2 separate regions of the Homo sapiens genome follow, and region 2 is linked to region 1. Evidence: fine-mapped expression QTL. A gene starts in region 1. The other region holds a variant in brackets. All regions are shown on one strand. Distances are between the middles of the regions.

Region 1 (5,527 bases):
GTCATCTTACAGTGGTTATCAGTTAACATGGGTCCTGTAAAAACTTGTTCTGGCATTAAGAAGTTTCTTTTTATTATCTATAGAACTGCCTTAGTTTTATATCCAAATCTTTATTCAACTAACAAAAAAAAAGTTATGTACAAGATGATCAGGATGCCTTCTAGGAAAAATCATCCACTACCGGTATTCTCACTTGCAGTAAGAGTTGGTAAGTGGAGGAGACATTTAACAATTACATTATCAGGAGACAAAGATAAAGGTCTGCCTGAGACATCTGTTGTTAGAACGTCTAAGCACAAGAAAAACGCCTACCTTCTGGTCCCACTCTGCCATATTTGGAGCCATCTCTCGGGCAGCAAAGTCAAAGGCCACTTTTTGAAATTCTTTCTGCTCTTCATTAAGTCCCATGGAAGCTGTGGGCAGGATTGCATATACTGTTCTAGGACAGGGTCAGTGTTGCCAACAAGGTGTTGCCAACAAGAAGCACCACGAAGTTGTGAAAGTGGATCTACTGTAGTATTTCCCATACACGGTATAGCCTTTAACAGCTAGAGAATGGCAGCTTCTGTCGTTATTCCACTTGTCATATGGAGAAAGGACAGTTCTAGCACACATCCAGATCAACCTAGAACAGGATAGGGGACTTCCAGACATCTCTTATCCTAGCACTTAGTAAAATGCAGTTGTAGACCTAGAGGTTGAGGCCACAGTGCTAGAACTTTGGTCATTATAACTGACACTGAAGAGCACTATGGGCTGGGCGTGATGGTTCACGCCTATAATCCCAGCACTTCAGGAGGCCGAGGCGGGCAGATCACCTGAGGTCAGGAGCTCAAGACCAGCCTGACCAACATGGAAAAACCCCGCCTCTACTAAAAATACAAAAATTAGCTGGGTGTGGTGGCGCATGCCTGTAATCCCAGCTACTTTGGGAGGGTGAGACAGGAGAATCGCTTGAACCCAGGAGGCAGAGGTTGCAGTGAGCTGAGATTGTGCCATTGCACTCTAGCCTGGGTGACAGAGCAAGACTCTGTTTCAAAAGAAGAAAAAAAGAAAAAAGAGCACTATGGGAAGACTATGGCGCCACACTTGGCAATAATTTACTTCAGTGCCTACAAGCGATGCAGTCCTCACAGAAGAACACAAGGGCAGGTGCCAGAGTCTGTTCCTTGGGGCAAATCTGGGCATCAGTAATGGCTGGCTATGCGAGCCTGGAGAGGGCACTGCTTTCTGTGATCAGTACTCTCATTAAAATGGGAAAGTCAGAAATGAAGAGTTCTGAGGATTAACGATTAGGCTGCCTTGAGAAACTCAGAGCAGAAACCTATGTTGGGTATTACCCTCAGGAACAGAGTTAGGGATAAACAATTCATGGTTCTCTGACTGGGGTCAGGCCATTTATTCACACAATTTTGTACAAGGGTTGCTGTTACTGTAGACCATGGCTCAAAGATCATTTCCAAAAGAATGTTTATTGGGTGTTTACTAGGTAGCAGTGCTGGGGTTACAAAAATAAATATGATCCAGCCAGGCGCAGTGGCTCATGCCTGTAATCCCAGACTTTGGGGAGGCCAAGGCAGGTGGATCACTTGAGGTCAGGAGTTCAAGTCCAGCTTGTCCAACATGGTGAAACCCCGTCTCTACTAAAAATATAAAAATTAGCTGGGCATGGTGGCATGTGCTGTAATCCCAGCTACTTGGGAGGCTGAGGCACAAGAATTGCTTGAACCCGTGGGGCAGAGGTTGCGGTGAGTTGAGATCGCACCACTGTACTCCAGCCTGGGCAACAGAAAGAGACTCCATCTCAAAAAAATAAATAAATAAGATCCATTCACACAAAGGATGACTATTTCAATCCTAGCAAGAGCTCATTAAATGTTAACAAATCTTCTTCTTCTGTAAATGGCTACTTCCTAAAACAAATAGTTCAAGGAACCACAGGCTTAAGAAATAAATCTGAGTTGCATTCTAATGGAAGGAAATAGTTTTATGCAAATCATATGCATAAGTAAACACAAGTTCCCAGAAGGAAATACAGTATAAAAACAAAACAAATACCACCACTCATGAACTTTGCCAGTTACTAGCAGAGTTCAAGATGCCAATACATAGTTACTAGCAGAGCTCAAGATGCCAATACATATACACTAAAAAGGTAAAGCTAAATAGAAAAACACTCCAAATGAAATGGGAAAAGCCTTTGACTGCAGAGCCACTCAAGTGTAAGCAAGATGCAAACAATAACAAAACCCACCTCTAAATAATTCCTTATCTGCTTCGGTATCAACCAGGGTAATCTGGGTTATCAAATTCTAAGCGCTAGGCCAGGGCAGCACCTCTTGAATGAGTTTTAGGACATTCAGAAGAAAACAGTATTCTATGCCTTACTGTACTTTATAGATCTGATATCTAAGGGACTTATTCTGTTGTAAAGAAAACTGCCATTTATTTAAAATAAATTTAAAAATATTTCAGAAGAAAAAAGTGTTTATAAACATTCTTGGCAGAGAAGTCACAAACTGGCCGGGTCTCCACCACTCCTCGCTACATTCAAATTACTGTTCAGAGCCTAAAGACACTCAAGTTTGTCAGCTCTGGTAGAGTTTCCCACTGGCAATAATAATTATTTTTCCTGCATGAGTTTCAACACTAAAAGTGTCTTATAGCCAGAGGTGTTAAGATACCAAATCTTTGTGTGTGAGCAAATCTTGTATGACCTGGAGTTCTTGTGCAGTTGTCACCATCAGCACCCAGCCAGCTTCTTATATTCTCACTGCTTTTATGACCTACTGTTATGATTAAAAACCAACCAACCCAACAACAACCAAGCCCCAAGTTTCTTCACTTCTCTAAGCATCCGAGGGTGACCGGCCGCAGGAGGACCCGGGCCGGAGGGGAACCTGCGGGGGGATGACCGGCCGGAGGGGAACCTGCGGGGGGTGACCGGCCGGAGGAGGACCGGGGCGGGGGTGACCGGCCGGAGGAGGACCGGGGCGGGGGTGACCGGCCGGAGGAGGACCCGGGCAGGGGTGACGGGCCAGATGGGGACCCGGATGGTGGTGACCGACCGGAGGGGGCAGCCAGGCCGGGGGTGACCGGCCGGAGTAGGGAGCCAGGCCGGGGGGGTGACTGGCCGGAAGGGGAGCTGACGCCGGGGTGACTGGATGGAACGGGGAGACTGCAGCCCCTCGCGGACATATGTCCGCCGGGGTTCTGGACACCTGTCCTACTGCCCGCCAGGAGATCCTTACGGTCGATGCAGGAGGTCAAGCTCCGGTGGCCGGTCTGGACGAGGACCCGGAGACCGCCGGGCAGGCAGCCGAGGCGCGCCCCGAAACGCCGGCAGCCGCTCCACAGCATAGCCGCCGCAGCTCCGCGTTCAGCTAAGAGTCTGAACGCCTTCGACCTCCGTTGCGCTCGCACTGGCGGGACCTGCGACCCGGCAACGCCTGTCCCACTGCACCCTGGGGGTTGTAGTCCTCCCACGAGCCCTAACAACCCAGGTGCCAGGCGGGCTCCCAAGGGGACAGGACTACAATTCCCAGAAGTCCTCGGGGCCTCGGCGCCGCAGAGATGCACCGCCCACCAAGCGCCGCGGGGGTCGCGCTGCACAGCCTGCGGCGCAGCGGAGGCGGACCGCAGTCGAGTCTGCAGAGTGTTGGGTCTGTAGCCAGCAAATTACTTCATCATCTAGATTATCCATTCAGTTGATCCTAATTAGCAAGGATAACAAGGTAACACAAGGCTTACTTATATTCACCCAACAAAAGTGTCTCTGTGGAGCCACTTCCCAGTGAACTACATACTGAGATAGGGGTTCCTGGATGAGAAGGACCAAGGACAGAACCGAGAAGAGTTTAGGGGCAGGTTATGCGAGATGGAAATGGCGCAGATAACGGAGGGAAGGATTTGAGGGCTCAAACGTAGGCGTCTGTGTTTCGCAAAAGTTGGAGACGTTCTAGGCTGCCTCTCGTTGCCTCCATCTCGCTCTGCGCGGGTTTTGGAGGACATTAGCATTCTTTCTTGTATCTCCGTTGATTCCAGAATCGTCCGCACTAAAGTCCCCTGCAGCGTGACCATGTCGAGACCCCGGAAGAGGCTGGCTGGGACTTCTGGTTCAGGTGAGCTGCCCCTAGGCTGCACAAAGGCAGCCCAAGAAAAAACTTTTCTCGAAGAGCCTGTTTAGTACTCATTTTTCACTCCCTGCTTTTTGAGAACCCTTTGTGATATTTTTACTCCATTATCCTTAATCACTCTCCATCTTCTTTACTTGTCTCACCAAGCTCCTACCTACAGTTCCTTTTTCTTGTTTATTCAGGCAATGGTTGTTGTGCACAAAGACTCTTTGAGATACCAGGTGGCGTGCTAAAGAATATAAAGCGCCTGCTTGCGGGTGAACTGCAAACAGATGTGATGGGGTTCAGGAAAATGGATTGTTAAGTTTATGGAGGGAGGAATCACGGGGAAGGCCTCGAGAAGGATGTGGAATTTGAGCCCAGCCTTGAAGAATGGGAGACTTTCCACGGGCAAAGTTTAGTACTAAGAAAACGTGATGTCGTTTTTATAATCACAAAGATGGATGGCATTCTAAGTGGATGGAGGAGGAGGAACATTGGAAGGTACAGAAAGTACCTCTTTTGGGAATGACAGGGGTTCCAGATATACTACAGCACATTGCAGTTATTTATCAATATGTGGTGTTTGCAGTGGGCCTGTTAACTCCTAAGGGGCCATTAGGAAACTAGGTTAGGAAGGTATGCTGGGTTCAGAGCATTAGACAGCCATAAATGGTATTTAATGACAATTGATGTAGGGACTTTGACTAAATTCAGAGGCAGTATAGTCATTAAGTAGCTTCAGATAGACCTCAGTGACAGGTGCTGACCTCATATCTTGATTCCACCATTACTGGATGTGTGATCTGGAGCATGCTTCCCAGATGAAGAGTAGAACATCTCACAGGTTATGTAGATTAACCGAGTTAGGGTTAGGGTAACACATAGACCTTGGGCCCTGTCATATAGTAATTTAACAACTTAGCTACTGAATGCCTACTGTGTTCCAGGCACATTCTGATTGTCTTGGGATGAAATCGAATCATCACCATTTTTCTACAATGTCCTGAATGAACTGTTTCTTTCAACTTTTATTGGCACCTTCAAGGAGCAGAAAGGAGATGGGCCAGGAGCCACAGTGAGCAAGAAGGAAAGACGTATGAGATGAGAATAATAATGCTTTTATTATGCACTTATTGTAATGCCAGGCATTGTCTAGGCCCTTTGTATTACCTCATTTAAGCTTCAAAATAGTTGCAAGTAGGTGCTCAGTTTCCTCTTTCCTATGCAAAGGCATAGAAGAGAGAGTGAGGAAAGGAAAACATGTATTGACTACTGTCCGGACCTTTAATCCTGAACAACCCTGTAAGGTGTTCTTACCCTATTGAATAGATAATCCAGAAGATACCCTGTAAGGTAGGTATTCTTGTCTAATTTTTATAGATAAGGAAAGCTTCTTAACAGTAAGATTA
Region 2 (5,000 bases), 24 kb after region 1:
ACGTTCTCCCTAGTGCCTTTCCTCCTGCACACATGTTAATATCAGCTCTGACATCAAATGTCATGGAAGAGTGGCCAGTGTGCAGTCACAGCAGGGCTGGCCTGGCCTTTTTAATCTATCCTTTATAAGCCATCTGCAATACTTCTGCAAACACTGTGGGGCAAAGGGGCAGACACAGCGATGCTTCCTATTTGCCAGAAAGTTTGGTTTCCTCTTGCATAAATTAAAACAAAAATCCAAGGCTGTTCTCACGAGAGGTCTGGGCCCTAAAGAGATTGTAAATAGCCTCTATTCCGTCCCAAAGAAGCAACCACGCGTCATCTTTCATTCTTCCCAATCACCAGTCCTCAGGGACCAGACGTGTCAGGCTAGAAGTAGGAACTGAGTAAGTTTTTGGTTAAGGTAACTATCCTGTCTTTGGTTTCCTTCTCAGTCCAACAGGAGGAAATAACTTTTGTACTCAGGATGTTTTCATGGTGAAACTTGCCACCAACAGTTGAGAAGTGAATTTGCCATTCTGGAAGGAAACTGAGCCAGCTTTGCATCACAGGTCACCCATGACAGCCGCCCTGAGCTTTGCTGCTTGGCTAAGGCCATGTTTAGTCTAGGCCTCGTGCAGTTTTGGAAGAAACCTAAGTCAGCAAAGCATAAAAAGACCTCCAAAGGCCAGGCGTAGTGGTTCATGCCTGTAATCCCAGCACTTTGGGAGGCCAAGGCGGGTGGATCACGAGGTCAGGAGTTTGAGACCAGCCTGGCCAAGACGGTGAAACCCTGTCACTACTAAAAATACACAGATTAGCCAGACGAGGTGGTGGGCATCTGTAATCCCAGCTACTCGGGAGGCTGAGGCAGGAGAATTGCTTGAATCCGGGAGGCAGAGGTTGCAGTGAGCTGAGATTGTGCCATTGCACTCTATCCTGGGCGACAGAGCAAGACTCCGTCTCAAAAAAAAAAAAAAGCCCTCCAAAGAGCCTCCTCTTCATCTGACCCTCCCAGCCACTGTCTGCTGGCTGGCCACTGTCAGGATTCGTGCTTACCACACCCTACTCCTGTCTGCCAACCCTGTGAAACCCAGAAGCACTGGCACCTCTGAGCGGCCCACGCCTCACCAGGCGCAGCTCTGCTCCAGTCCCACCAGCAGCTTGTTAAGTAGGCCAGAATCAATCCACCTCATCTTAATGTGCCTTTTACTTAGTGTTTCAAGGGCTAATGAATTAAAATACAGAAAGCCCCTGGAGTTTTTAAAAGTATGGGCTTGATTGGTATTAATGGGCTTATTAAAACCTAAAAAAAAAAAAAAATCCAGATAATGTCTGTTGGCTTTGGAGTGCAGGGATGTTCCTGTCTGCCCTCCTCCGCATGTCTGACCTTCTAATTACGTTTGGTTTATTTAACCCATTAGTCTCCAAGGCGGCCCAGGTCTGCTTTCTAAACTTCACTGGTGTTCCCCAAAGGATTCCAGCTCAACAACGGTCTCTTCTTCTCACAGTTACAGTTTTTCCTTGCAGTGCTCCTTACAGACTACTGCATCTTCCTAAAGACGTGGGCCAGTAGGATGACTAGGTCTTAGACCTTTCTGTCCCATGGGCCTGACCCAAGAGATGCCCTCACCACATGTGTTGGCATTGTTAGAACACAGACCAAGCCACTGGAAAAGTATCCTAGGTACAGGAAGGATCCCAGTGTGGCTCGAAAACTTGCAGAGGATAACAGAAAAACGTCCACCACATAAGTGAATAAATAAGATATTATAGTCTCAGGAGGCAACGTTCAAACTGCCACATCTGAGCAGTGGTGCAGGACCAAACGGGCCAGAGGTTTGACAACTCTTACGTTCTTACACACAAGGGGATATCAGTTTCAACTTGGCACAGAAGAGTGTGAGGAAAGAAAGATGTAAAGGCAGGTAAACTGACATCAG[C/T]TTTAATACTTCCTTATCCCAGTTCCCCCAGTGAGGACGCAGCCCCAGTGGGGGCACACCAGCTGGAGAGTCACCGAGTTGTCAGTGGCCTTGATGGACAACCACATGTTGCTCATCAATGCCTCCTCCACAACAAAGGCAGGAAGCTCAGCTGCTCAACCACCAAAACAAACCTGATTTCTGTCTTTCTTTCATTAAAACAACTCTTGCTTATCTGGGAGGAGATGTGGGAAAAGGAAAGAAAACAAAATGAAACAAAACAACAACAAAGAATAGTTTCTGTAAATTCTTAGATTTGACCAATATATCCATTCAACAAATATTTACTAGGCACCTTCTATGTGCTAGCCACTGCACTAATGATGGGCTGAAGGCAGTCCCTGGATCTCAGGTGCTCAGAAATTAGTAAGAAAGACAGACAAGTTTTTTAAAAAAGTCACAAGCTTGTCATACCCGGCTTGAAAAGAGGTATTAATGAGGCCTCTGGAAGAACAGTGGAGGAAGCACTTAAGTCAGCCTGGGGAAGTCAGAGAAGACTTTCTGATGGATGTGATGTTAGCTAGGCTTTGAAGGAGTAAGAGCTTGGGTGGAAGGTTATATCTTGCAGAAAGATGTTACTATACAAAGGGAAAATACCAAGATTCCAGAAGAAAAGGATAGTTTGTGGAACCCACAAGCGGTGAGAGTGAAGGGTTAGGGGAGACGAGGCTGGAAAGAGAGGGAGGGCCAGAGCAGGAGGGATTTGGATATACTTTCCCCCATTAACCAATAGGGAGGCGAGAATTTTAAGAAAGGACTGACAATGATAGAACTGCCTTTAAGAAACTTCATCCTCACAGAAAATGACCTGAAAGGGGAGGAAGACAAAGGCAGGAAGACCACTTAGGAAGCTGCTACAAACAGAAAATAAAAGGCAGTGGCATTGAGAAGAGAGAGGAGACACTGGTTTGAGATATACTGCAGAACCAGCAGAGAAGGCCAAAACTTAGCAGCCAACTGCATGTGTGGGAGGAGGAGCCAAGACTTCAAAATGACTTCTAGATTTCTGAGGCTAAATGATCCCAGCTGACATAGGCCGAAATGGGGAAAAAAGGAGACGCAGTGGGGCTGTGGCTGAAGCAGAGACAGAGAGAGGGGTTTGTGTTTGCATGCATTACTGAGGCACCTGTAGGGTATCCCGGTGGACATGTCTAGCAGACAGCTTCAAAGACGTGTGAAACTCAGAAGAGAGGTCGGGTCAGAACAAAGAAACAGTCTGGGAGTCATCAGAATATAATTCATGGGGCTCAGCACAGTGACTCATGTATGTAATCCCAGCACTCTGGGAGGCCAAGGCAGGAGGATCGCTTGAGTTCCAGACCAGCCTGGGCAATAAAGACAGACCCTGTCTCTACATAAAATTTAAAAAATTAGCTGGGTATGGTGGCATGCACCTGTAGTCTCAGCTACTTGGGAGGCAGAGATGGGAGGATTGCTTGAGCCCAGGGGGTTGAGGCTGCAGTGAGCTGTGATCGTGGCACTGCACTCTAGCCTGGGTGACGGAGTGAGACCATGTCTCAAAAAATTTTTTAAATAAAAAACAAAGAAAATAAGTCATCGGTGCAGATGAGATTGCCACAGCAAGTGACAGGATAAAAGTGACACCTCTGCCTGCCTGCCTCCAAATTAACAAGGAAGAGGGACAGAGCTCAGTGCTATCAACTTGATTACTGCCATATGCCACCCCGTCAGCCAGACCTCAGAACAGACTGAAGTTCCACCCATCTCACACATAGTCAAAGAATGCAATGAAGGAGAAAACCACACGACCGCAGCTTCAGCAAACTCACTCACTAGCCTCGCTCTGGTGCCCCAAGCTCAGTTTACAATGACTGACACAGGTGTATGACACAAATACTTCACAACATGCTTCTTTCGGGGAACCAGGAAGATAAAATAGGAGGAATATAAGAGTTTAAGAAAAGTCACTCTGTGCCTCCAAATAGACTTCCAAATAGTACATCTTCACTCCCTGTCAATGTGTGTATTTCAGGAACACAAACTCCCTTTTACATCGAATAGAACTACAAAGGTTATTCTAATGCCTTGTTCTTGATCAAGAAATACATCCCAAAGCCAAATAATAAGAAACATATTGTCTAAGAAAAGTCACTCTGTGCCTCCAAATAGACTTCCAAATAGTACATCTTTACTCCCTGTCCATGTGTGTATTTCAGGAACACAAACTCCCTTTTACATCGAATAGAACTACAAAGGTTATTCTAATGCCTTGTTCTTGATCAAGAAATACATCCCAAAGCCAAATAATAAGAAACATGTTGTCTAAGAAAAGTCACTCTGTGCCTCCAAATAGACTTCCAAATAGTACATCTTTACTCCCTGTCCATGTGTGTATTTCAGGAACACAAACTCCCTTTTACATCAAATAGAACTACAAAGGTTATTCTAATGCCTTGTTCTTGATCAAGAAATACATCCCAAAGCCAAATAATCAGAAACATATTGTCCATCATTCTGTGTTATTCTACTTCCATGTCCTCACGTAACCATGGATAATTGAGCGTGAACAATATACTTCAGCACAAAGCTGGGACTGGCTCCATCTACAACACCAACTGAGACTGGCCCATGTGGCCAAAGTAAGAAATTTAAGGCAAAGGGTTGAAACATGCACTCCTTATCAGTAGACAGGGCGATCTTCTTCAGGTAAAACAGGTACAGGAGGAAGAGCAGCAAGCCAGTGGGTGATAACTCAATTTGTGAAATGGAAACATTTTACTACAACTACCATAATTTTATAAAGGAACCCTCTATAAGGGTCATGCATGATCCCCTGGCATGCCCAACATTCTCACCAAGTGATGTTATTTTCCTTGCTTGGTAGCTGAGAAAGCCGAGGCCCAGAGAGTGGCTAAATTCCCCCAGTCTCATGGTCAACTCAGTGCAGGGTGGCCAAGGGCCCGGGAAGAGTTACTAGTGGAAGCAACAAAAGGTTCTGAGAAAATTCAGCAGGGATGATGGATGTCTCAGGAGTAAGGAGATAGACAAGAAATCAGGTGGGGCAGGAACAGCAAGCAGT

Direction of the effects. Alleles are on the strand shown, and positions count from the first base shown. SD is a standard deviation of normalised expression in the study named.
For the expression in monocytes after LPS of the gene that starts at base 3,393 in region 1, C is the low allele of the variant in region 2 and T is the other (large effect, 0.75 SD a copy in Kim-Hellmuth 2017).

Evidence for each region. PIP is the estimated chance that this variant, and not a neighbour inherited with it, causes the effect. A credible set is the group of variants that fine-mapping cannot tell apart.
Region 2: its variant is the best candidate, but not a certain one, in a credible set for the expression of ACAD8 in monocytes after LPS (Kim-Hellmuth 2017, PIP 0.51).

Annotation. Positions count from the first base shown.
Region 1 is chr11:134,251,434-134,256,960 of GRCh38, reverse strand. ACAD8 (acyl-CoA dehydrogenase family member 8) reads right to left here and starts at 3,393. Exons shown (of 11, transcript NM_014384.3): 1 at 3,252-3,393; 2 at 313-413. The coding sequence starts at 3,360. THYN1 (thymocyte nuclear protein 1) reads left to right here and starts at 3,609. Exons shown (of 7, transcript NM_014174.3): 1 at 3,609-4,121. The coding sequence starts at 4,079. RefSeq lists an enhancer at 3,479-3,848.
Region 2 is chr11:134,227,527-134,232,526 of GRCh38, reverse strand. The region is part of intron 1 of VPS26B (VPS26 retromer complex component B); the gene reads right to left. Among named protein-coding and RNA genes, the nearest start is that of VPS26B, 5.4 kb to the right of the region's middle. The variant C/T (reference allele first, on the strand shown) is at 1,922.